3 separate regions of the Homo sapiens genome follow, and all the other regions are linked to region 2. The links come from fine-mapping of genetic effects on gene expression. A gene starts in region 2. Each other region holds a variant in brackets. All regions are shown on one strand. Distances are from middle to middle.

Evidence for each region. PIP is the estimated chance that this variant, and not a neighbour inherited with it, causes the effect.
Region 1: its variant is fine-mapped to the expression of TMEM171 in whole blood (TOPMed, PIP above 0.99).
Region 3: its variant is fine-mapped to the expression of TMEM171 in pancreatic islets (PISA, PIP 0.95).

The regions. Positions count from the first base shown.
Region 1 is chr5:72,656,839-72,665,019 of GRCh38, forward strand. The region is part of intron 7 of TNPO1-DT (TNPO1 divergent transcript); the gene reads right to left. Among named protein-coding and RNA genes, the nearest start is that of ZNF366, 150 kb to the left of the region's middle. The variant G/A (reference allele first, on the strand shown) is at 4,653.
Region 2 is chr5:73,116,490-73,124,670 of GRCh38, forward strand. TMEM171 (transmembrane protein 171) reads left to right here and starts at 4,086. Exons shown (of 4, transcript NM_173490.8): 1 at 4,086-4,207; 2 at 6,817-7,524. The coding sequence starts at 6,885. LOC124901001 reads right to left here and starts at 4,002. Exons shown (of 2, transcript XM_047417978.1): 1 at 1-4,002. The coding sequence starts at 3,940. The coding sequence ends at 3,239. RefSeq lists an enhancer at 2,925-3,476.
Region 3 is chr5:73,153,645-73,161,825 of GRCh38, forward strand. It overlaps the pseudogene LOC101060067. Among named protein-coding and RNA genes, the nearest start is that of TMEM174, 15 kb to the right of the region's middle. RefSeq lists enhancers at 1,605-2,105, 2,106-2,606. The variant C/T (reference allele first, on the strand shown) is at 4,487.

The DNA of each region.
Region 1 (8,181 bases), 460 kb before region 2:
ATTTACAGTTTGGGGCAAGGATTCAGAAAGCAAGGGATTCCAGAGAAAGCTGACCTACTTTACAATGAATCCATCTGTGCACTCTGCCTATTTGAACACTCATTTGGTGAACATTTCTTGAACATCCACCATGTGCCAGGCACTGTTTGCCCCAGCGGGGATGGCTCAGCTTGACAACCCTCTTCAAGCCTTTGAAAAGAAGATTATTCAGAATTTCCAATGCCCCTTTGGTATCTGGTGTATTGAGTATCTCTGCCTGGTGATATGGGGAATATAAAGCAATTCAGTTGAGCAACTTTAGTTCAAAGGCTGTGATTTATTATCCCTTATTCTGAGAACCTCATATGTTGCCTGGCATATGATAGCTTGGTAGGATGGATGAGCAGATAGATGGATGCATAGAGGGAGGCATGAATGGGTGCATGGATGCATGGATGGATGGATGAAAGCATGGATGCATGGATGAATGCATGGATGGATGGATGGATGGATGGATGGATGGATAGATGGATGGATGGAAGGATGAATGGATGGATGTTGTGGATAACATGAGTCTTAGTTTGGGTTACCCAGAAGCTGATCCTGAGACAAGGATTTGAGTGAAAGTCATTTATTTGAGATGTGAGATGGGTATGGGAAGGAAGCAAATAAATTATGTGTCATCAAGCAGGTTACCACTATGGGTGAGCAGGGCTCAATCCCACCAGGGATTTCTGGAGACTTTATAGAACATGGCTTAGAGTCATCCCACCCAAGGTGCAAGGAAGTGGGGTTTTGAACCTCTAAGTTTCATCTAGCATTGGCTAAGGACTACTCCAAGGAGCATTAACTCCCAGCTTGGAAGACTTTTGACTAAGAGGAAACCTTCAGGCAGAGAGGGGCAGTGCTTGCAATAGGACAGCTGAAGAGACATGGATGGAACACTAACAGTGTCTGGTACAACAGTCTCAGAATCAGCGTCAGCGCTCATTTCACTCACTCTACCTTCAGTGTGCAGGTTCCTTTCCTAAAAATAGAGGACAGTCACTCACTCAGTCTCTGAGGGGGCACTCTGAGGAATCTCCATCCCTTCCTCGTGTTCTCTCCCCAATGCCCCAACTGCAGTGAGAAACTTGTAAAGTGCCCTAACTCTGGGAGGATAATTGTGTCCCTCTGTCAGCTCTGTTAGGGTGATAAGCCTGTTTCTCAGCACCCTTGGTGTATTGCCTGGCTTAGCATCAAAACACTGACCTGGACACATCATACAATCTTGACGGGGTGTTAGGGAGGAACACTTACTCCCCAGTCTTCATGGCTTCATGTCTATTGAGGGGTGTCCATCAGAGTAGTGCTCCTGGCCTGACTAACCTGGTTGATGAACATGGAAGAATAATCTGCTGTGAACATTTGAGTCCTTCCCTCCTCTCTCTTGTTCCCTGGAGCCTACTAGCGTGTAGGTAGCACACATTACCTGCTCCTCCAAGGTGGGGAGGCCTGTGGTTTTCCAGCACAGCTGGGAGCTGGGTAAACAGGTCTGCCTACATCTGGGTAGAATATTAGAATTACTGAACCACCTAGGCCACATTCCTTACATAGCATTGGCAATAACAAATGTGATATATCTATCTGCATGCAACTGATCTAGATCTATCTCTCAGTGGATTCCAATCTGAGCGGCATTATTGACCTTCCTAAAACTCCAACAGGGACCTTATCCTAGTATCTGCGGCCATTAGAATGCAATATAGCATTCAGTGTGCTACACCAAAAATGGCTCCAAGATCCAGAAAAAAAGGGAAATGTTACATATTGTTCCCTCTTTTTGAATATTCACAATGCTCATTAGTGTATTAAAGGCTCTCAGAAACCCATCAGTTATAAATAAACAAACAAAAATCTTGCCAACCTTTTTAAATAAGTAATGTATTTGACCTTGAAACTCTTTTTTTTTTCAATAGCCTCTATAACATTTCAGGAGGCAAGCTTCCACAGAAAATACTTTAGAAAAGTTTGCATATGCTGTTCCTTCTCCCGGAACGCCCTCTCCTGCTCTCCTCCATGGATCTCTCATGTTCAGCTTGCTGGATACACCAAGAATGCAAGGCCCTGACAACTCTTTACTTGGGCCATTTCCCAAGATTGCATTTGCAGTGAGCAGCCTTGAGGGATGAGGTCATGTCTCCCTCCAGGACAAGAGGAGGCTCACTATAAAAGAGGTGTGATTCCTACAGCACTACTAGAGTCCAACATCACCTTACCCCAGGTTCCAAGGACCTTGTTCGAAGGTAAGACTCATGCCTAGTACCACACTATTATACCAGTTTTCATTCCAGGTTCACTCTCATTGGGATGATCTGTATCATTCAGAGAGATACTCCACTGCAAAAATATGAGACATGGCTTGGAGAAAGGAACTGCCCCTGCAGGACGCACCCAGAGAGGTAAATGCTCACAGCTGTCTTGTGGTGAAGCCAACAACAAAGTGACAGCAAAGCCACAGACAGACAGAGTTTCTCTCCTATTCTCCTTTTTGTTGTGTAGTGAGTGCTGTGGTGGGCCCTTTTGTTTCCTTCCACTGGGCCCCCCAGTACCTCTTCAAGACTGAAACAATCATTTGGCCAGCTGCTGGGAGTATTAGAAGCTCCCAGCTCCCAGCTGAGTCCTTCTACAGGAATTGCCCTTCTCTGAATCACAGGCTCCTGAGTAGAGGGAGGTGGACCCATATCCAAAGACTGGTCAATGGCCAGCCCTTTTGCTGCCAAGTGGCACAACCCTGAAGAGTCTCTCCGACTCCCAAGCTCCTACGGAATCAGCACCCACAAGGCAGTTCACCTCTTCCCTCTGCCCAGTCCCGCCGCCTTCGCTCCTGTAAGCTGCCTGCACACTGGTCTCCATCGCAGAGTCTGGTTCCTAGGGAACCCAACCTCACACACACTCTGGGAGTTTCGTTCTCTTCTACCAGAGTGAGGCAATGAAAATCAGCACAAAGAATTCTGGCCAGTACTGTGGGTGAGGAATCCATTTCAGGAGGAGCCACCAGAGCGCAAGCACCAGGTCACAGCAACAGAGTCCAAGGGATCCACAGGCCAGAGAGTGTAAACGCTTGTAACTGCTGACCAAAGGCTCAAGTATGTGGTCTAGTGTTATCACTTGTTACCTCTGAGGAGTACAGAGTTGTGGTTCTCAACCTTGGCTGCAAAATAGAATAACCAACGGTGTTGCTAAAATTAGTGATGCCTGGGCCTCATCTCAAACCAACTGAATCTGAGCCTCCTGAGCCTGAGCCTGGCCATCAGTATTTGGTAATCACTTGATTTCTCTGGGCCTTGCTTCTCTCATCTGTTAAAGAGGCAATAGTAGTTAGCTCCCTACAGGGCTGACGGGCAGGTGCTACCTGGTTATCATTCCGTTAAGTACCTGGTGACTTATCAGGCATTCAATACTGAATATCTTCCCCACCTTCCTACTTAACTGCATGGTTAGAAAAATGCAGATGTTCTAAATAAGGATGCCAAAGCACAAATATTGCATGTTATTGGTTGTCTTCAAATCAAGAGGCATCTATTTTACCATCCCTTAAGACAAAGGTCTTCCTAGACATTGGCCAAGATCGTGGACAGATTCAATGTGCCCTTGGGCATATTTACATAAAGTTTCTTGAAATATACCTTCTTTTTGACACATAGTCATATGAAAACTGTACAAGTTTTCTTTTTAAACAGTAAAATAATTTGTTCAAAGCCACTTACCTATTTTGCAACAGGATAGCTTGCTTTTAAGACTGTTTGACTTCATATCCCATCACTGCTTCTTAGCTGTGTGACTTTGGGCAGACCATTTAAACACCCTTTGCCTCAGTTTCCCCACCTACAAAATGGCAATAATAATAACACCTACCTCATAGGAGTGTTGAGCTGATTAAATGATATTTTGCTTGTTAAGTATTTATCAGAGAGGCTGGCAAAGAGTAAGTACTCAGTGAATGCCAGCTATTTTTATAATTTCTTGGAGTGAGTGAAAATATGTGCCAGGTGAATTTTAAAATTTTAATTCCATTAGCATTATTAAAAATACAACCATATTAGGGTTGCAGATTGAATAAAACCACATGGATTTCTCATAAAGGTTTTGAGAATTTGTGAGCACTCTACTAATAAAAAAAGATGAATTGGGCATATCATCTTAAGCCCAGAAAAAGCTGAAATAAAACACTTAATTGTGTGAATTTTATTCCATGGTGTCAAACCTTAGAGAAACCGGGATTTAAAGGTATTTCAAATTTACCTCTTTTACAGTAAGCATATGAGGAAAAGGCTAGTTTCATCAGCTTCCCTTGGTAGGTATTGAGAAAGATTAATGAATGTCTTGAGTTTGAACATTAAGTTCTTATGTGTTAGATTTCTATAGCCTTCACTTCTTGATGTTTAGGGAAAAACAATTAAATATGTCTCCGCATTTTGCTCCATACATATTAGATAAATCAACTGGAAATTGTATTCAGCTACTAGTAACAGAGACTTAAATATTGGCTTAAATAAAGCAAGGATTTTTTCCCCTTATAAAATAAGAGCAGTGCAGGTATGATGACTCCAAAGCACCATCAGGCACCTAGGCTCTTTCCAGCTCCAGGCTTCACCATCCCTAGGCTGTGGCCCTTGTCCTCAGGCTTATAG[G/A]ATGACTGCTGGAGCTCAAGCTCTCACTTGAGTGTTCTAGGAACAGACAAGGGAGACACAAGGAAAGGCAGTGGGACCTGCTGACTGAGTCATCCTCCTTTAAAAAGCTTTCCCTGTAAGCCCCACTCAGTGACTTCCAGTTACATATTACTCTGCCCACCCACCGCCCTCATCCCATGACACATACACACCTCTGCAAAGAAGGCTGGGAAAAATAATGTTTCAGTGGACAGCTTGCCAAATCCTAGAATACAGGGATTCCGTACTAAAAAGGAAAGGAAGGATTATACTGGTTAGAGACCTAAAATTTTTGCAACCGTAAGTTCTTAATAAATTGTTGTTTACAAAAAAGAAGAAAAAAAGGAGGAGGAGGAAGAAAAGAAACGACCTGCTAATTTATTCATTATTGTGTCCCTAGGACCTAGCTCAGTACCTGGCACACAGTAAGAGCTGAGTAAATATTTATTTAATGATTGAACTAAAGAATGAGGTATGGATATAGAATAAAGGATTGATTTTACAGGCTCACATGAAAACCAGTCTCTTGAATCCAGATACTTAGCCTTTAAAGAATTATTCTAGCAACAATACAGGGTACTGTAATTATCCTCATTTGATACATGAGGCTAAAAGGGCTTAATAACATGCCCAGGGTGAGACATCCTCTTCCCACTGCCCTCCACAGACCCAGGCCAGCATAGCCAATGCCTCTGCCTTGATGAGCATGAGGGAATGGTCCTAGATGGATTATCTAATGTCCTTCCTTTTTTACAGATGAGAAAACTAGATGCCCACAGAAGTTAAGAATCTTGTCCAAAGTCACGTAGCTCAGAGAAGAAAGTGATTATTAGAATCAGGTATATCAACCCCCAGTCTGTGCTGCATGGGCCCCGAGTTCCCATTGGCACCAACCTCTCAAGAAATTGGTGTGATTGCCTGGAAACAGACTTTGATGAAATAACTGTGAGCTGCTCAAGATATTTTCCACCTTCCCTGGCCAACATATTCTACTCCCTTGGAAGCCACCCCAGCATTCATTGTTGAGGGTAGAGTGTCAGGTTGCAGGCTGCAGATTTTAGTAGCATTGGAGAGAGAGGCAGCATTAATTAAAAAGCAGAGGGAAAAGCCATCACCAAAATTGCCACCCACTCCAGGACAGTTGCCTCTAGGAGCAAACGCCTTAGCACCAGCCCTGGGATGGAAGTTGTGAGCAATAGTAGAGTGACTGACCATCCTGGTTTGCCCAAGACTGTCCTGGCTTTAGCACGGAAAAGTCCTGCATCCCAAGAAACCACTCAGAACCTGTCAAACAGGGCCAGTTGGTACCTCCAACATATTTCTGTTGTTGCTCTTGGGTTATACATTCAGAGACTTTCAATGGAACTTTGGAAAAGTGGGGAACAGCAAGGAACCACAAGAGGCAGGTCCAGCATGTTGGGTCCAACCCAGCACAGAGGCATTTGTTGAGTACCAAATTGATGAGAGGCAGAGAGCCAGGTCCTCCCTGGACATGGAGCCATCATTGCTAGTGTTTTCTGGGCACTCACCCAGTGCTGAGTGGAAGGGCTTCATGTGGATGAGTTCGTTGATCCTCACAACACCCCTAGAAGGCAGATCCTATTGTTCTCCCATTCACAGAAAGGAATCTGAAGCACGAGGAGGTGAAGGAATGCGCCCAAAGTTAAAAGCTGTCAGGCAGCAGAGGTCGGGTGCAGACTGGCCGACTCCAGGGTCTGCGTGCTCCCTTCTCATTGCACTGCCCCATACAGGAAGAGAAACATCACCTCTTCACTCAAGAAGTGTACAACATGGGAGACAGGGTGAGGTAAGTGCGCAGATCCCTTATGGAGTAATATCAATGCCACCGTGGCTGACATTCCCTGAGCAGTTGCTGTGGGCCAGGCCTCTGCTCAGCTTCTACGTAAAGTGTCCATTCTCATCCTCATTATGATGAGTGTGGTACTATTAGCATCTCCATTGTATGACAATCGGACTGTGGCTAAAAGAGGTGAAGCATTTTACCCAGCATCTCACAAGTGGTGAAGCTGGGATTCAAATCAAGAAGTCTAATCCCATGGCAGGGCAGAACTGTACCTTGCTTAGGAGCTCTGGGTGTTCTCCCAGGCAGGTTAGGTGAGGGCCAGGTGAGAGCTACTAACAGACTGCCCTAGAGATTTAGCCATTTCTGCCTTTTTGTTCATTTGCACTAAGTGTCATTCTCTAGTCTCAAGCCTTGGGCTGTGTTCTGCTAGCAGCCCCCGAGCTGGTGGTGGCCACCATCATTTTGCAAGCCAGTGAACCAAAAACCACTCCGAGAGCTCCACAACGCAACACAGAAGGCTGAATCCTGGGACAGACGCCACAGCACAGTGCTGTTTTGGAAGGCAGCTTTCTGCTCCCAGCCCCAGCCTACCTTTCCATTGCTGCTGTTTTCTTCCTGCTCCAGAGAAGGGCGAAAGCACATTATCTACCTACATAGAGGAACTATGGAAGCCCTGCCAGGCCCTGTCTCATCCCAGAGCTTGAAGACTTGGGTTATGATCACTGCAGAACCAAAAGGCATTATTAATATGGATGTATTCCAGAAGTGACCAGTTTAAAAATCATTCAAGAGAGCATATGCATGAGACCATGCGCTGCTGTTATGCCTGCAAAGCCCTCTTTGGTAACAACAGCTCTGAGAGCTCTGACCTCCCACCTAAGAACCAGTGGCCACAGAAAACCTTTCTGCAAGAATCCCTGCTCCTTTTCCAGCTTGTCTGGAGTGAGAGAGTAGCTGAGGCTCCTGGACAGCAAGTTGCCTCTAAGAGGGGCCACTGCATCCTGTCATAAAGAATGGATTAGGCTGGGAGGCCGGGTGCGGTGGCTCATGCCTGTAATCCCAGCACTTTGGAGGCTGAGGCGGGTGGATCACAAGGTCAGGAGATCGAGACCATCCTGGCTAACATGGTGAAACCCTGTCTCTACTAAAAATACAAAAAATTAGCCGGGCGTGGTGGCGGGTGCCTATAGTCCCAGCTATCCCAGCTACTCGGGAGACTGAGGCAGGAGAATGGCATGAACCCTGGAGGTGGAGCTTGCAGTGAGCCCAGATCGCGCCACTGCACTCCAGCTTGGGCGACAGAGCAAGACTCCATCTCAAAAAAAAAAAAAAAAAAAAAGAATGGACTAGGCTGGGGGGATAAGCTGGCTCTTTAGTAAACAGAATGAACCCTGCTGCTTCTCCCACAACCAAAGGGAAAAGTGAGCCCCAAAACAGAGCGGAACGTTACTTCTCTAAGCAAAAGACAAAGGCACCCTCCTGGGTGAGTATCAAAATATTTAAATCTGCTAAGACCACGAAGGGCCCTGACCTAGTGTGTATTGCAATGAGTTGGAGAATCTGGTAGAGAGTTAGTAATAACTGCACCAATCAGGCTGAGAACACTGAAGCTATATGATGGTGATTATTAAAAACAATAATTATTGTTTGCCACATACTGGACACTGATGTAATTTATTTATAGGTGCATCTAATATTTGTGACAGC
Region 2 (8,181 bases):
CAGCCGCACTAGCTGTGCTCTGCACCCCAGAAACATCTGAAAACTGCACTTGGTTGGCACCAGCCCCTCCCTTGCTTTGTGTGTTTAGAACCCTCCAAAGGACTAATTGTTACTCTTCCAGAGAGGGAGCCCAGCCTCCTCAATTTTGTAATGTCACTCACAGACCACAGGAAAGTATTCCTTCCGAATTCCTGAACTCCAAGCCTCCATATTCAATTGCCTACTCAGCTTCTCTACTCGGATGTCTAATGGACAAAATTAACATGTCCCCAAATGGACTCTGAAGCTCCTCCTCTCAAACTTGTCCCACTCTTAGGATTCCCCATCTTGCTCATGCCAGAACCATTCTTCCACTTGCTCAGATCCAAAACCTTGGAATCAAAACCCACATGTGGTTCATGGAAAATCCCATTGACTCTATCTTCAAGATATATCCAAAGTCTCATCCCTTTCATCACCTTCATACACAAGCTACAGACATAACTCCTGGGTTGTTACCACAGCCTCCTAACTGGCCTCTTCCCATCCATCCTGGCTCCTCCTTGGGCTATTCTTACTGCAACAGCCACCAATTTCTTTTTTAAAAGAAATCAGATCACATCACTGTCAAAGCTCATCACATCAGCTCAAAAACCATTCAAAGGCTTCCCACCTACTTAAAGGCCCTGCACAACCTGGTGCCCTTGGCCCTGCACATGCCTTTCCTCTCTGACCTCCTCTCCTACTCTCCCCCTTGCTCACCAACTGCAGCCACCCTGGCCTCTTGCTCTCCTTTGAATATGCTAATATGTGTGTTCCTACCTCAGGGCCTTTGCACCTGTGGTTACTTCTGCCTGAAGCACTCTTCCCTACTTCCCACAAAAAATCACGAACTATGCTTACAAATTCTTACTCTTCCCTACAAGAGGTGGCACCTAATCCCATTCCCCTTGACTTTGTGACTCAATTCTAAGGACCAGAATAAAGAGAAGTGATGGTATGGAAGTGCAGAGCCTCGTCAGAAAAGGCACCACAGCTTCCCCTTTGTTTGCTCTCCCTTGGATCACTCACGTGAGGGGAGGCTGGGTGGAGAAATCCACATAGTGAGGAACTGAGGCCTCCTGCCAATAGCCCTGTGAATGTGCCACCTTGGCAGCAGATCCTCCAGCCCCAGTCCAGCCTTCAGATGACCACAGCCCTGGCCAACTGCTAGACTGCAGCCTCTGAGAGGCTCAGCCAGAAGTACCCAGCTAAGCCACTTGCAGTTTCTGACCCTGATCAGAAACCCTGAGAATACATTTTTGCTGTTTCAAACTTCAAAGTTTTGGGGTAAGTTGTTATGCAATAATAGATCATTGATACACTTGCTTCCTCATTCCCTTCAAGTTTTTGCTGCAATCTCACCTTCTCAGAGATGCCTTCCTTAACTCCCCTATTTAAAATGGGGTGCTCCCCAGTCCCCATCTGTGATTTATTGTTCTCCCTGGCACTCAATCACTTTCTAATTCTCTGTATAACTTACATATTTTATTGCCTTTCTCCTCAATAAAATACAAGTTCCGTGTTTTATTGGTAGTTGGTAAATCTGTGCTGGCTAAATACATGAACACATGCCTCTGCTTTATGCTTCTACAGTCACTGAATTCGAGGTTTTTAATCTTGTTCTGATGCTGTTTTTCTAAGGATTCGGTCTGGCTTTTATCTTTTTCACTACCACACAGGCCAGGGAAGACCACTAGATAGTGACCAGGCCACGCAGCTTCTCTCCTAAGGCTAGGTGGGCTACAAAGATAAGTACCTCAAAGGCTGGTGGGTATGTCTTTCATACATAATCGATGATCAATTTCCAAGGAGTTTAATTTAGTCAAACAGGCTCTCATAGACACAAACAGTGAGAACAGCAGATATACCAAGTGGAGGCTAATCTGATTGTCCTTGGTGCCAGGATATTCAAGTCTGTCATGGGTGGTGAGCCTGCAGTCATGTGGCACCAGAGGGGCAGCTGTATCAACAGGCCCCTTGCAGGCCTGCACATGACATGGCCAGAGATTCAGTTTCAAATAAGGGGGAAGGGAAGAATGAGTAGGGAAAGGACAAGGAAACCCTTTTGCACAATGAAGAGTTGTTCACAGGCCTGTGTCAGAGGGGACAAATCCTATAATGAGGGCCTGAGTTCTTAGAAAGCCAGTGCCTGCTGTTGTACAATCCACTCTTGGGTATCTGCCCATTCGCTGGACATGCTTTGGTGCCCTTCCAGAAGGTGGTATACCTTGACACTTGGACCAGGAAGGATATCTCCACCCCAAACATAGATTACTGCAATGTCCTTGGGACACAGTGCCTGTATTGTTATAATAATCTAAACGTGCTTGGCATCACAAGGCCATGAGGGCGTTTTCTGGGTTCACAGCATGGTGTGTTCTCTGAGTGACAGGTGTGCTGCGGGAGAAACACTGAATGGTCAGCGCATCTGCATCTGGCTCAGGCCTTCTCTGCATGTCAACCAGCTGCAGAGGTTACTTTACCTCTGTCAGCCTGGACCTCAGTTTCCTCAACTGACAAATGACTGTTTTTCTCAGTCTCCTGTCCCCTGCTGCCTCCAACCTTTTCTGAACTGCTGGAGAGATGTAGCAAAGAACCACAAAGCAAGGGGTCGTGAGTGTTGGCATTGTTCATTTCGACAGTAATCAGGGCTGTTAGTTATGGCGGGGATTTACAGAGGTCGGGCACCCTGGCTATGAAAAAGTCCACCTTTGGCCACCCAGGCAAGTGCCCCACCAAATTCCAATGGCAAGAACTTGTCCGTTCTGCCTCCCTGGTGAACCCTAAAGCCCAGGTAACCCCCTCCCCTCTTTACCTCTCTGACTGGTTCTTTAAGTCTCTTCTCACCTCTGATGATTAGCTAAGCCTGCTTCATACTTTACCTTCAGTGAGCATGACCAGGAATCTCTTGTTGTATCAGGTAGGTAAAGTGCTTGCTTGCACATTGAAAAGTTTCATCCATTGGCCTTAACTCTAGATAGGGTTTCAGGCAAGGCAGACAGGAAGCTGAGAAGAGAAGGCAGGGCTGGGAAGTCCCCGTGGCTCAGGGCACCTCTGCGCTTGGGCAGAGAACCCTTGACTCACCTTCCACCGTGCCCTGACCCCTGGTGTGGAAACTAGCACAGTTGGATCCGTATCACGTGTCACGGGGCTGGTTACAAATAGCACAGGGATTGGCAAACTCATCCCGAAACTCCCGGTTCAAGGGCAGGGAAAGTTACCAGTTTAATTCCGGCAGATCATTAGTGGTGGAGAACCAGGAAGGGGGTTCTATCGCAAAGGAGGGCTGTGCGCAGACACGTGGGTGCGGGAGGGGCAGAGCTGGTCCGGCGCGGGGCTTGCCGCGTCTCGGCCTCAGTCTCGGAGCCAGGACCTCAGGCCTGAATGGCTGGGTGTGGAGGGCCCTTGTCTCACATTCTGTAGAGCGCACGTCGTCCCGTGACCTGGTGGCTCCATATTCGATGGGGAGCTCGCAGCGAGTCGCTTCCCTCTGTAACCCCACTCCAGGTCTCCAGAGCAGTAGGAGGGCCACAGGGCTGCTGGGTGTAGTCGCCCCGGACCTCGCGGTGGCCAAGGCCAAGGCGGCCGGGGCACGGTACCCTGTTCGGCCTGGGCCGCAACCACGAAGGAGGCGGTGGAGGCGGGGGCCGGCGCTTCCTCCGCGCCCCCCACGCCGCCGCTCTCTCGCGCCCCTATAGAACTGGGCCTCAGGCCTCGAGGGGGAGCGGGCCTCGGCGGGCGGGGCGCACAGTTCCGCCAGCCGGCGGGGGCATCTCAACTCGCCGGCCCCGCCAGGTGTGCGGGCCAGGCAGCCGTGGAAGGTGCCCATTTCTCCCAGATTCCTCGCGCGCACGGCCACGAGCGCGGAGGCTGCCAAACCCGCCAGCCCTGGGTTCCGAAGCCGCCCCTGGCTCTCCATTCCCTCGCGGGCGCGCCCCGGGCCCCCAGTGGCGGCCAGCTCCCACCGGTCGCTCCTGCACTGCCCTGCCCTGCCCTCCCCGGGCCGCCGCGCCCGCGCAGCACCGCCTCCTTCTCTAAATACTGCCGGGTCCGCCCTCCGCACCAGGACGCGCGGTGGGTAGGGTGCAGGGCGGCCGGCGCAGCCGAGGCCGCGTGCGGAGGCGGACGCCGCGCCCAGCCAGTGCCCACAGCAGCGCGGTCAGCCAGGCGCCGGACCCAGCTTCAGGTAAGCTGCCCCGGCCCGCGCGCCTGCGCCGGCGGCGGCGGGTCGGGCGCTGAGCTGTGCGGCCAGGCTGGGCGCGGGGAGCCGCGGCAGCGCGGAGGCGCTGGGTATCCGAGCCCAACCTGCGTCCCTGCGAGCCCCTCCGGCTGTTGCTTGCGCTCGGGCTCCCTAAAAGCCGCAAACCGATTTCGCACAGAAGGCATTTGCCTCTCGTTTCGTTCCCCAAACGCACCATAGCTTTGGACGTGGAGAGGTGCTGTGAATTTTGGAAATGTCTTTTGGAAAACCAATAGGAGTGTTGGAGAGGGGAGTTTGGCTTTGGGGAGTTTAAGTGTAGGGTGGTGTTTGGAAAAGGTTTCATTGCGAGTGAATGTGGGTGTCTTTGTATCCGTTTGTGAGTGCATCTGTGGGAGAAGGAGAGAGAGAGAGTATTTCCACACTATTATGGATCAGAGGTGAACACTCAGCCAGGTGCTCCGTCCACTAGTCCACGGACAAGAAACTACAGATTCAGTTTTGGGCTTCTATTTACTGGTGTTTGGGAATTTGCCTTAAGACAGTTGAAGCCTTGTGACTCACTGCAAAGTTGACTATACTGGGAATAAATGAATTCCTGATAGGACTTTGCAGCCGAGAATCACCCTTCTCTTTCTTGTCTCCGAAACCGCAAAAGAGATTGCATGATTCAGGAAAAAAATTAAAACAACAACAATAACAAAAAACCAATATATATAGGTTTCAGGACTCTCCATCGTTTCATTCCACTGAGAGTTTTGGAATGTACTCCCTGTAGGATAAATGAGGACTACTGTATACTCAATATGAAATTCTTATTCACTGCAGGATGTTACTGACTTAATAAAAAATGGGAAGATTAAAAAATTAGTGCAATGCTTTGTCTCAGCTTAACTGCATCTGTATATCAAGTTTTTCCAAGTTTGAAATGAAAGCTTTTTTCCCTCCTATATTTCCTTTTTTTCTCCAACTTCCTTCTGATTCTATCATACTTTTTCCTGGAAAAGTTTTTCCCAGTGTAAGATTGCCTGTTTGCTTTCTTTACCTAAACTGACCTTCCCTCAGTGTGATTTTGGTTTGTCAAGATCATCTTGGGCTTAGGGCCTCAGTCTTGAGTTCCTTCATGGGACCATGGATGTGAGCGGCACAAAATATTTTAAAAGTTTTCTTTCCTTGGGCAGGTGAAAATAGTCTTCACGATTTTGGATTGTCTTTGCAATTGCAGGACCTGACTTACGGGGTCCTGGTAAAATATCCCATTCATTGGAGTAAAATAAGATAACGAGATAATTAGGTCAGCTCTGTGTAAGCTAGACAACTCTTTAACAACCACTTGGCATATTTAATATATTATACCCCTGAAGTACAGGGCTTGGGTGATTTTCTGGAAGGTGCTTTCTCACTTGATTCCACTTATACTATTCTTTCAAAGCCAAGTTCCCCCCTTCCACCCATTTTGTGCTTTATAACTAGCAGTTTTATTGGCTGCTTGTTTTTTAACTGAGTCTCAACCTCTTTGTGGAAGTAGGTGACACCATGGAGGAGGGTGAGTGAGAGGCCACACCAGCCTTTGGGTACCTGTCCACTCTGAAAATTGAGCTCCTGTTGACCTGCTGTGCAACACTTTCCAGGGTCATCCCAGATCCAAGCAACTGGGTCACCAGTCTGTGCTTGTTGAGAACCCAAGAACCATTTTGTTTTGTTTTGTTTTGTTTTTGGCAGGGTCTCACTCTGTTGCCCAGGCTGGAGAGTAGTGGCGTGATCTTGGCTCACTGCAACCTCCAGCTCCTGGGCTCAAGCAATCCTCCCACCTCAGCCTACCAAGTAGCTGGGACCACAGGCACCATGCCTGGCTAAAGTTTGTATTTTTAGCAGAGATGGGGTTTTGCTATGTCACCCAGGCTGGTCTCGAACTCCTGAGCTCAAGCAATCTGCCTGCCTCTGCCTCCCAAAGTGCTGGGATTACAGGCGCAAGCCACCACGCCTGGCCTCAAGAACCACATTTTGATAGAATCAACTTAAAAGTCCACCAAACCCACTGTGTTCCTGAACAGACTTCTTATTCTATTGAAATTGCTGAAATTGGGTCTTTTGTAGATGTAGCCTTAGAATAAAACATGAAATGGAAAGCTGCTGTAGTCTAAAACAGGAAATGGAAAGTTAGTTACTGAACTGACTTGAAAATGCTGAGAGCAGCTATGATGAAAAGTGGGGCATTTGCAATCAGAAAGAATCCCTGTGGTTCTTCCCTCATTCACCAGTGCTTTTTTCCCCAGGGAAATGAGTTTGTAAGACTCAGAAAAGGAAATGCCACACCCAGCTACTTTTGTTCTTTCAGTTTTTAAAAAAGATACCCTTAGATGTGTAGTAATTTAATTTCCTGTTTTGAATATCTTGTAAAATTACATATTTAGGAGTTTCTGAATGCTAGTTTATCTGACTCATAAACCAACTCATTGTTCTACAGCTTATCAGTTGTATAAAGTTCTACCCCCAAGGCCTCATTGTGGTGTGATTTCAGAAATGATCAGCAAAAAACCAGGGTGGTTCTGGAACACCTGTGCCCACGTTAATTTGGTGTTTGGTTGTGTTTGCAGAGCTGCTGAAATCTTGGAGGGAAGAAAACACATCCCACCCTGCCTCCGGGAAGGGGCCTCTCCTGGACATGTCTCCTGCAGCTGCTGCTGAGCCAGATGGGGACCAGCAGGACAGACACGTCAGCAAACTCATCTTCTGCTTCTTTGTCTTCGGCGCCGTCTTGTTGTGTGTGGGAGTCCTGCTCTCCATCTTTGGGTTCCAGGCATGCCAATATAAGCCCCTCCCAGACTGCCCCATGGTGCTCAAGGTGGCGGGGCCTGCATGTGCCGTGGTTGGGCTTGGGGCTGTGATCCTGGCCCGCTCCCGGGCGCAACTTCAGCTCCGTGCAGGGCTGCAGAGAGGTCAGCAGATGGACCCCGACCGAGCCTTCATCTGTGGAGAGAGCCGCCAGTTTGCCCAGTGCCTTATCTTTGGGTTTCTGTTCTTGACAAGCGGCATGCTCATCAGCGTCCTGGGCATTTGGGTCCCTGGATGTGGCTCCAACTGGGCGCAGGAACCGCTAAACGAGACAGACACTGGCGACTCAGAGCCCCGGATGTGTGGGTTCCTTTCTCTGCAGATCATGGGGCCCTTGATTGTGCTTGTGGGATTGTGTTTCTTCGTGGTTGCCCATGTTAAGAAGAGAAACACGCTGAATGCTGGCCAGGATGCCTCTGAGAGAGAAGAGGGACAGATCCAGATTATGGAGCCTGTCCAGGTCACTGTAGGTGGGTTGCTGTTATTTGCGTTCTTGCTTCTATCACAGTGGCTTTGCAGCAGGGTTTCACCAGCTGCTCTTGGTTCTCGTCTGGATTCTCTTTCTCAATTCTTCCATCTCTCACACATGTGTGTGCACACGCACACACCCCCATCATGTGTACATACACAATGGTGCTGCTGTGGGAAGCCCCGTAGGAACCTTGTATACATCTTTTCCCCCCCAGCAACTCTTTCCTACTTTGCAAAGCATTGGGATATTAAGTAGTGACCTTGACTGAGGTCACAGAGCAAATTAAGAGGAAAGTGAGAAGAACCATGAGGACAGCCTTGGAGCCTTCTGCCACCTTAGGGACTCACTAAGTGACCCTGTTACCCCTGTTATTCTCACACCAAAACCACATAGCATTTTAGTTGTGGGACACTTGGTTTCTCCTCCCAGGCTGTCACTAGCTGGCTGTCCTTGTAAGTCCTTAACCTCTCCTGCCTTGGTTTATGTCTCTATAAAATGAGCAGTGCCTCTCTAAGATTCCTGCAGCACTAACATTCTAGGATTCTGGATCTGTCTGAGTCCAGCAGTCTCCAGGTGTTTTGAGGGGCCTCTGCACTGTCTCTGTGTTGTCCTTCTTTTTTTGTGACATCATCCGTGGCTGCAGGGCTGAGGCAAA
Region 3 (8,181 bases), 37 kb after region 2:
CTCAGCCAGCTCTCGAGTGAGAACTTTTTCAGTTCCACTTTGAGGATGCCATCAGTGACAAACTTCCTCTTCTTGGAGATCTGCACCCCCATCTTGCCACCGTGTGCCTCTGAAATGAAGGGCCAATGCGAGAGTTTTATCCTCTCTGCAGCAGAGTCCTTCTCTTGCGGGCAGGTATCTGCTTGTCTTTAAACAAAGATAGACCCTTTTCTCCTCTCTTGGTCAACCAGTGTCCTCCACTTCTCGAAGTTTCTGCTCTTGAGTTTTGTTTATATAGGACCCGTATGGAAGCTCCTTAGTGCCCCTTGCCCTCTTTCTACACCACGGCACTTCTATTGCAGCCAACAGTCTCGGTCTGCTAGATTCCCTGTTTCTCACTGAGAATCTATTTTTGAAGCTGGCCTTACAGGTCCTAAGTCCCTCCCTGCCAGGATGACCAGCTTGTCCCAGGTGGCTCAGAACTTTTCTAGTTTCAGCACAGAGAGTTTTGCATCCTGGGACCCCCCTCAGTCCAAGGCAAACCAGGATGCTTGGTGACCCCCACCCTGTCTCTGGAAGGGCTGCCCTTGAATCAGTTTCCCACCTCAGGCCCATCGGCCAAGAGAAGGTGATCCGGGTCACCTGGTGTCCAACAAGGCCTCAGTCTTTCAGTAGGGGTGGGTGGCTTCTCTGGGAGAGGGACCATGAATTGGGCCAGCAATGATCAACCTCTCCAGTTAAAACTATACTTAGATGAATTACTCATTAGAAGGGAAGGAAGTGAGGCATTATAAGTATACGTGTAGCAGTTTGATGCAGTAGAAAGCACATTGAATTGGAAGTCAAAATGCCTGGTTTCTGCCTCTGAACAGCAATAAAATCCCAGCATCAAACAGTTCATCTTTCTGAGCCTCAGTTTCTCCATCTGTAAAATGAAAGGTTTAATTTAGGGCTTGCTTCCTTTTTAACTTATGTTAGAGTTACTCCATATTCTTCAAGACATAATCTGCTATCATCATTATTAAATTCTTCCCTTTCCTCTCCTCCCTTCTTCCCTGTTCCCCTTCCTCTCCCTTCCTCCCTTCCCCTTCCTTCTTTCCTTCCTTCCTTCCTTCCTTCCTTCCTTCCTTCCTTCCTTCCCTCCTTCCTCCCTTCCTCTCTCCCTCCCTCCTTCTCCATTCCCAGCACTAATTCCTTTCTTCCCAACAGGCCACTACATCAATGTGAAAGATATTTATCCTTGAATAGGTATGTAGTTCTATAAGATATGATTATTATTTTGTGTATTTATTTAAAATTTACATATATTACATTATGTTATAGTCCTCATTTGCTTCCTAACGTTTCTTACTCAGCACCATTTAAAAATATATCCGTGGTGCTGGCTGTTGGTCTTTAAGACTCCTTCCAGAGTGGCACTTTATGAACCTTGTTTAGTATTGCAGAACGCTCTGTTATCCAAAGTTCTTCTACTTTGAATCAAATTATTGGTGGGCTTTTTAGAGGGGACCAAAGGGACAAGAAAGTATTACTCCAATGTTGGACAACTTTGGTCTGCATGAAAGGACCTAAATGGATTAATATATAGAGGACATTAAAGAGGAATAAATGAAGTACTGGGTGGCAAGAACCGTTGTGAATTCATCTTTGGCCCTTAATCTTGAAACTATGAAGCCATCTATGAAGCCAAAACTATGAAGCCGAATTCACATGCACGATTCCTGGAACAGCTTACCTCCTATGTGGAGCTGGCAGACATTCTCCAAGAGGAGGCAGGAAGAGTTCTCAGGCTCTCACTCACATATCATCAAGCATAGAAAAACTGCTTAAGACCTCAGCCAGAGATTGAACCCAAATCGGAAGACCTGTCCCCGGGGGGCCAATCTCTGTGGCTCAGAGGAGGCAAAGGAGACCCAGCCGCATCCCTCCCAGAGCGTTCTGTGGTTGTTAGCAGACGGGCTAGTGCCTCGCAGGTTGAGCAGCTCTCTTGGTGGCATTGAGGCTGAGGGAGCCATGTGGAGCCTGGGAATGGGCTGCGGGTGGGGAGCAGCTGTGGAATAGCCCCTCCTGGCTCTGCCTGCCTATGGCTGGGAGAACAGTTTCCATTTCAGGCAGCAGCAATTCACACTGGGTGGTCTCTGCCTTCCCTCCCTCAGTGCCTCAGTGCCACAGGCAACTGCCAGCAGGCTGAGAAAAGCACAGCTCCCCTTGGAGGACAGAGGCCTGTGCGAGGAGGCTGTTCTCTCCCACACTTCTGGCTCACAGGGTCTTCATCTCCACTCAGGCCTCTCAGCAAGCTCTGGAAAGACCTCTCGCAGCTCCGCTGGTGAGGCCTGTGAGCCAGGGCAGGGGCGGGGGTTGCTTTATGTTCCCCCGGTGACACACTTCCCGACCTACCTCAACTTTACAGAGGCACATGTTGACTCTATTCCAGGCCTTAACTATTTCTGTTCCTTTGAACATGTAAAACAAACAAAAACAACAATGAAACACAAAAACCAATAATAACAAATATAATAAAAACTCTGCAAATGCCCCTGAGGGTTTCCAGCCCCGCTCTCCACATCTCAGCCGACTTGGTGTTGAGATGCGTGCTTTCTGCCTCGGGTTGTATGATCTCTGAGGAGGAGATCATGGTGGCTGTGGGATTATATACACACGCTTTACCAAGATGTCTTCCTTTGCAGTGACAGGACTTAAGCTGACTCTAGGAATCAGAGAAGGTTCACTTTTGCCTTCAGGCCTAGGAGCAGCTCATCCTCAGTCCCCAGGCAGTGCCTCCCGGGGCTGCCTTCAGGGCCTCCTGACAAGGGCCTGGGTGCTTTACCCCCACCATAGACTCAAGCACTCAAGGAGAAAGTTTCCAGAAACTGAACAGGATGAAGTAATTATAGCCGAAAGTCACTGAACTTACTACGCTATGTGTTCTCTGTATGATCTCACTTGATCCTGATAACCTTATGATGTAGGTCCCATCATTCATAAATGAGGAAACTGAGGCTCAGTGAGGCTAAGCAGCTGGCCCATTTACATAGCTAGTGATTGGAGAAGCCAGAATTTGATTGTAGAAAAGACTCCAAAGCCTGTACTCTTAACCGTGACATGCATGGAAGCGCGCGCACACACACACACACACACACACACAATTGACATATATGTGCATTCTTTGGTCTCTACAGTGTAATCTTTTTTGTAATATTCACAAATCATACGTTGTTAGAAATGGAAGTCATTTTAGAGATTACCTATCTGACTCCTCCCCAACTTTTACTTCCATAGAAAAGGAAACTGGGGACCTACCTTAGAGAAATAGTTTTCAAACCTGAGCAAGCATCAGAATCACCCAAGGGACTGGCTAAAACACAGACCTCTGGCCCCATCTCCAGAGTTTCTAATTCTGTAGGTCGAGGTGGGGCCCAAAATATATATTTCTAACAAGTTCCCAGGTGCTGCTGCTGCTGGTTCTGGGCCCCCACTTGGAGAACCGCTGCAGTAGAGTAAATTGGACATGTGAAGGCCTGCAAGACCCACTGCAGTGTTGTTACTTGAACGTGCTTAGCAATGTTGATGAGGCCTGGACAAACATGTCCCCTGGTCACTCTTAGCAGACTCATTCGTCCTTTACTAACTCTCTTTGGGTCTCAGCAACAGAAACAGAATGTGGCAGGCAGAATTCTAAAAATGCTCCCCGCTAAAAAAAAAAAAATCCCACATCTTTATTCCTCAAAGCCTGAGAACATGTGGCATCGTTCCTATGATTGTGTTATGTTATACGGCACAGTGGACCCACAAAAAGGGAGTATCTGGGTGGGTGTAATTTAATCACATGGCTCCTTAAAACCGGATAACTTTCCATGGCTGTTGTGGCAGAAGAGTAGGGCAGAAAGGGGGAAATCAGAGAGACTTGAAGCTCAAGAGCTTGGCTAGTCTTGCAGCACTATTGCTGTTTTGAAGATGGAGCGGCCCAAGTGAGAAGGAATGTGGGGGGCTTCTAGGAGCAGAAAGGAATTTCTGGCAGGGAATTGGAACCTCAGTCTTATGTTGCTTAGGACCAAATTCGGCCAACAGCCTGAATGAGCTTGGGAACAGATTATTTCCTGAGCCTCCAGATAATACAGAGGGATGCCTGACCTACAGAACCGTGAACGAATAAATGAATGTAGTTTTAAGCCTCTAAGTGTGTGGTTATTCTGAAGTGGAAACTAACATACAAGTACATAAATTCCTGAGCTCAGAAGCAAGCCCACTGCAGACCTACTCCATCCAGAAGCTTCTCACACCAAGAGCTGGGCCTCTGGGAGGCTCACCTTATCATTTGCTGGAAATGGCAGTGGCTGTGACTTAAATTCCAGCCCCATCAAGGTAGTTTTCAGTTCAGTTGGTGTCTGAGTGCATTTTCTGCTGCTATAAAGGAATACATGAGGCTGAGTCATTTATAAAGAGAAGTTTATTTGGCTTATAATTTTGATGACTGGGCATCTGCCTCTGGTGAGGGCCTCAGGCTGCT[C/T]TCACTCATGATGGAAGACGGGGAGCTCATGTGTGCAGAGATCACATGGCAGGAGGGGAAGCAAGAAAAACAGTGGGGAGGCACCAGGCTCTTTTAACAACCAGCTTTACAGGGAACTAATAGGGTGAGAAGTCACCCCCAAAAAAGGGCATTATTCTATTCATCAGGGATCCCCTCATGACCCAAACACTTCCCATCAGGCCAATTTCCAACAGTAGGGATCAAAGCTCAACATGAGTTTTGGAGGAGACAAACATTCAAATCATCGCAGCTGGGGAAAAAAATCTAAAGATTATCAGGACACCCAGGAAACTGCCTACCCAACCAACCTCAGCAGACACCAGCCTCGCTCGAGAACACAGGCAGATCACTTGCCTGCCAGTGCCTGCCCTTCATGGATGAGCAATTTTAAAAACACTTTAGGAAAACAGATTGTCCTCCTGCACTACCACTAAATCAAATAGCCTACTTTCCTGTTCTGAGATTAATCATCTGTAAAACAGAGGCCTTGCTTCTCACCAGGATATCAGAAAGTTCAAGCAAGAATACGGTGTAAAGACACAGAATCCATACTCCATACAGCAATGATCGCCACCGCCACCTACAATATTCTTGTTACTGTTTTGTTTTGTTTTTTTGAGATAGGGTCTCACTCTGTCACCCAGGCTGGAGGGTGGTGGCATGATCATAGCTCATTGACACCTCGATCTCTCAGGCTCAAGTGATTCTCCACCTTACCTCTCAAGTAGCTGAGACTACAGGCTGCACCACCATGCCTGGCTAATTTTTATATATTTTTTTTTGTAGAGGTGGGGTTTTGCCATGTCCTCAGGCTGGTCTTGAACTCCTGGGCTCAAGCGATCCACTTGCTTCAGCCTCCCAAATTATTGGGATCACAGGTGTGAACCACCACCCCCAGGCTCTTGTTATTCTTGAAATAAAATAAAATCTGAAGAATGAGGGGACAGTTTTGATTTTCAACAAGATCCATCCTGTAGCTAATAATAGTATAGTCATGATTCAACCACCCTGTCATTTTATTGTAAAAGTTGAATATAACCTTGAGGCTGCCATGGTCCAACACAATTCAAGTAAATATAACAGGTGAGTAGATAATTCCTATAATTGAGATTTCCCCCAAATATTCCCCCTAAATGACTTATAGACACCTGATGCTCATTTAAGTAGAGAATCTATTCTTAGGGTCGAGGTTCCGCGTCTGCTCCATCCAGGTCCTTACTGTGCAAGGATCCTCTTGCCGCATGTCCTTGAGGGGGTGGGGCCAAGTGGCATAGGTCACCCCATCCTCGTTGCTACTCCCTGCAGGTCTGCAACTGTGGCCCTCTGAAGGTACAGAGCTGCGCAGGGTGTGCATTTCTGACCGTAGTCACCCCTTGCCATGACATCTGCCTACTTTCACTGATCTAGCCCTAAAGACTGGAGGAATATCATGGAGGATGTTCCCGCCTTGTGCTGGACACCAGGACAGGTCTAGCACCTGGGTTTCTCAGAAGGCTTCCCAGCAGACTATGCATCCTGACCCTGTGTTCCTCTCACATCCACGTGGACCCATGAACCACCTTCCTCTGGAGTCTGATTTTGTCATCCGGACCTTTTCTGATTTTGTTGATCATCTCAGGATTGCCAGGTAGTGGTGGCCACTGACAGGGTCCTACAGTGCAGAGAAGAATGTCCAGGTCCCTTCTTGTGGCTTCTCTCTTTTCTCCCCAACCCCTCTTTCCTGAACCCCCACCTCCTGTGGTGCACCAGCGTAGGGGAGGCCACATGGTGCCATTTTTACCTAAATGTTTAGGAAGACATTCTTTTGAATTTTGGAAATCTTGAAGGGTTTTGAGACATGTATTTGCAAGTAAAACATGCAGGTTCCTGTTTTTCCATGTCACCCAAGCTTGTGGCTTTGTTTTGTTTTATTTTGCTTTTTATGTGCTATAAGTTGTTGAAATATTTTGGGGCTTTTTTGTTATCAGAGAACCTGGTAGTGTTCTGTCTGTAGTCTGATCCAAGTGAATATGGCCAATAGATTACCCTGCAGGATCACAGCACAAGCAGACAGATCTTTGAAACATGGGTTTGCCACTCTACCAAACTTTTGAAAAAAGACATTTAATCACACACACACAGCTTCCACAAAGCAATTTACTTCCAACCACAATGTGTTCAATCAAACGATTTGTTCAGAACTATATGACCACGCTTAGTTTCACTTCCCACCGCAGGTCTCTGATAACCTCTGAAAACTCTGTTTTTGTGGTTATACTGTCATTCATTATTCATCTTTTTAAACTATAATCATTTCAAAATTACAATTTTTAACGGGGAATGTGGATTGGTGGTTAAAAACAGGAAGCTTGATGTCTAAGTCTGAAAAGCAGTGAAAATATGTAAGAAACTCAGAAAAATTCAGAACCTGCCATTATTGTTGATTGTGACAGAGTGTTACCACCTGAGGACTCACTGAAAACTTGCCAGTAAAGAAGGATGAGGTTACTAACCAGCCACAAGTGAATGGGTATATAAACATGGTTGATCTAAAATCTTGGACTATATTTGGATGTTCACATGGACGAAAATTCAAGCAGTATCACAGACTGAACAGTGAAAAGTAAATCTCCCTCTGCAGAAGATTGTATTTTCCAAAGAGAAAGATGGTAATATTTCCTCTCCCAAGTGTTCTTCTGCAATGTGACCTTGACATTCCAACTATAGAAAGGAAGAATCGAATTCCCTTCCCTTTGTATCTGGGTTGGTTTAGTGACTTGCTTGAGCAATAGAATGAAATGAGAGTGATATTCTGGGACTGCCAAAGCCAGGTCATAAGACGCCTCACAGCTTCCACCTGGGACCCCAGGAGTACTTGCTCCTAAGACACTTCCTCTTGAAACCCAGTCCCCTGGCCGGGAGAAACCACATGGAAAGACACAGGTGAGTGCTCTGGTTGATGAGCCAGCGAAGCTCCTAGCATCAGCTGTCAGTCACATGAGTGAACCATCTTGATGTCCCACTCAGGTGAGCTTCTAGGTTCTGGCAGCCCTTGCTGACTGCCTGACAAAACTCAGCCAAGCCACATAACTGTTTTAAGCCACAAAATTGGGAGTGGATTGTTATATAGCAATAGATAACTGGAACACCCTCTCAGTTCTTCTGTCAAATTTATTTCATATTCTTTCAATGACATTTTATGCACAGACATTCAATGATGTGTATGTCTTTCCCCTTGCAAATAATGGCATAATAAGCACACTACAGTACTCACTCTGCTTTCTTTTTCAACCAATAACACATCTTAGAGATTATTCCATACCTGTGTATGTACAGCTGACTTGCTCTTTAACAGTGGAAGAGAACCTTATATTTTACCACCATAAGTTATTTAGCCAGTCCACTACTGATGGACATGTAGGGTTCCCCATCCCTGTACTTTGTTAGTACAGATAGTGATTCATTGTCTATTCTGCTAAAGTATCCTTTTGTAAGGTGTCTATTGTAAGTATGTAGGTTACATTCCTAGAAGATGTTTGTAGCTTCTTTAATTCTGTTGTACGTACATTTTGAATTTTAGTAAATATTGCCAAGCCCCCCAAAAAGAGGTTGTGTCAAGTTATACTCTTCCCCACTCAGATTTAAAGCTGTTTTCCCAGTGACTTGCCAAAACAATGCATTCATAAAGTTTTAAA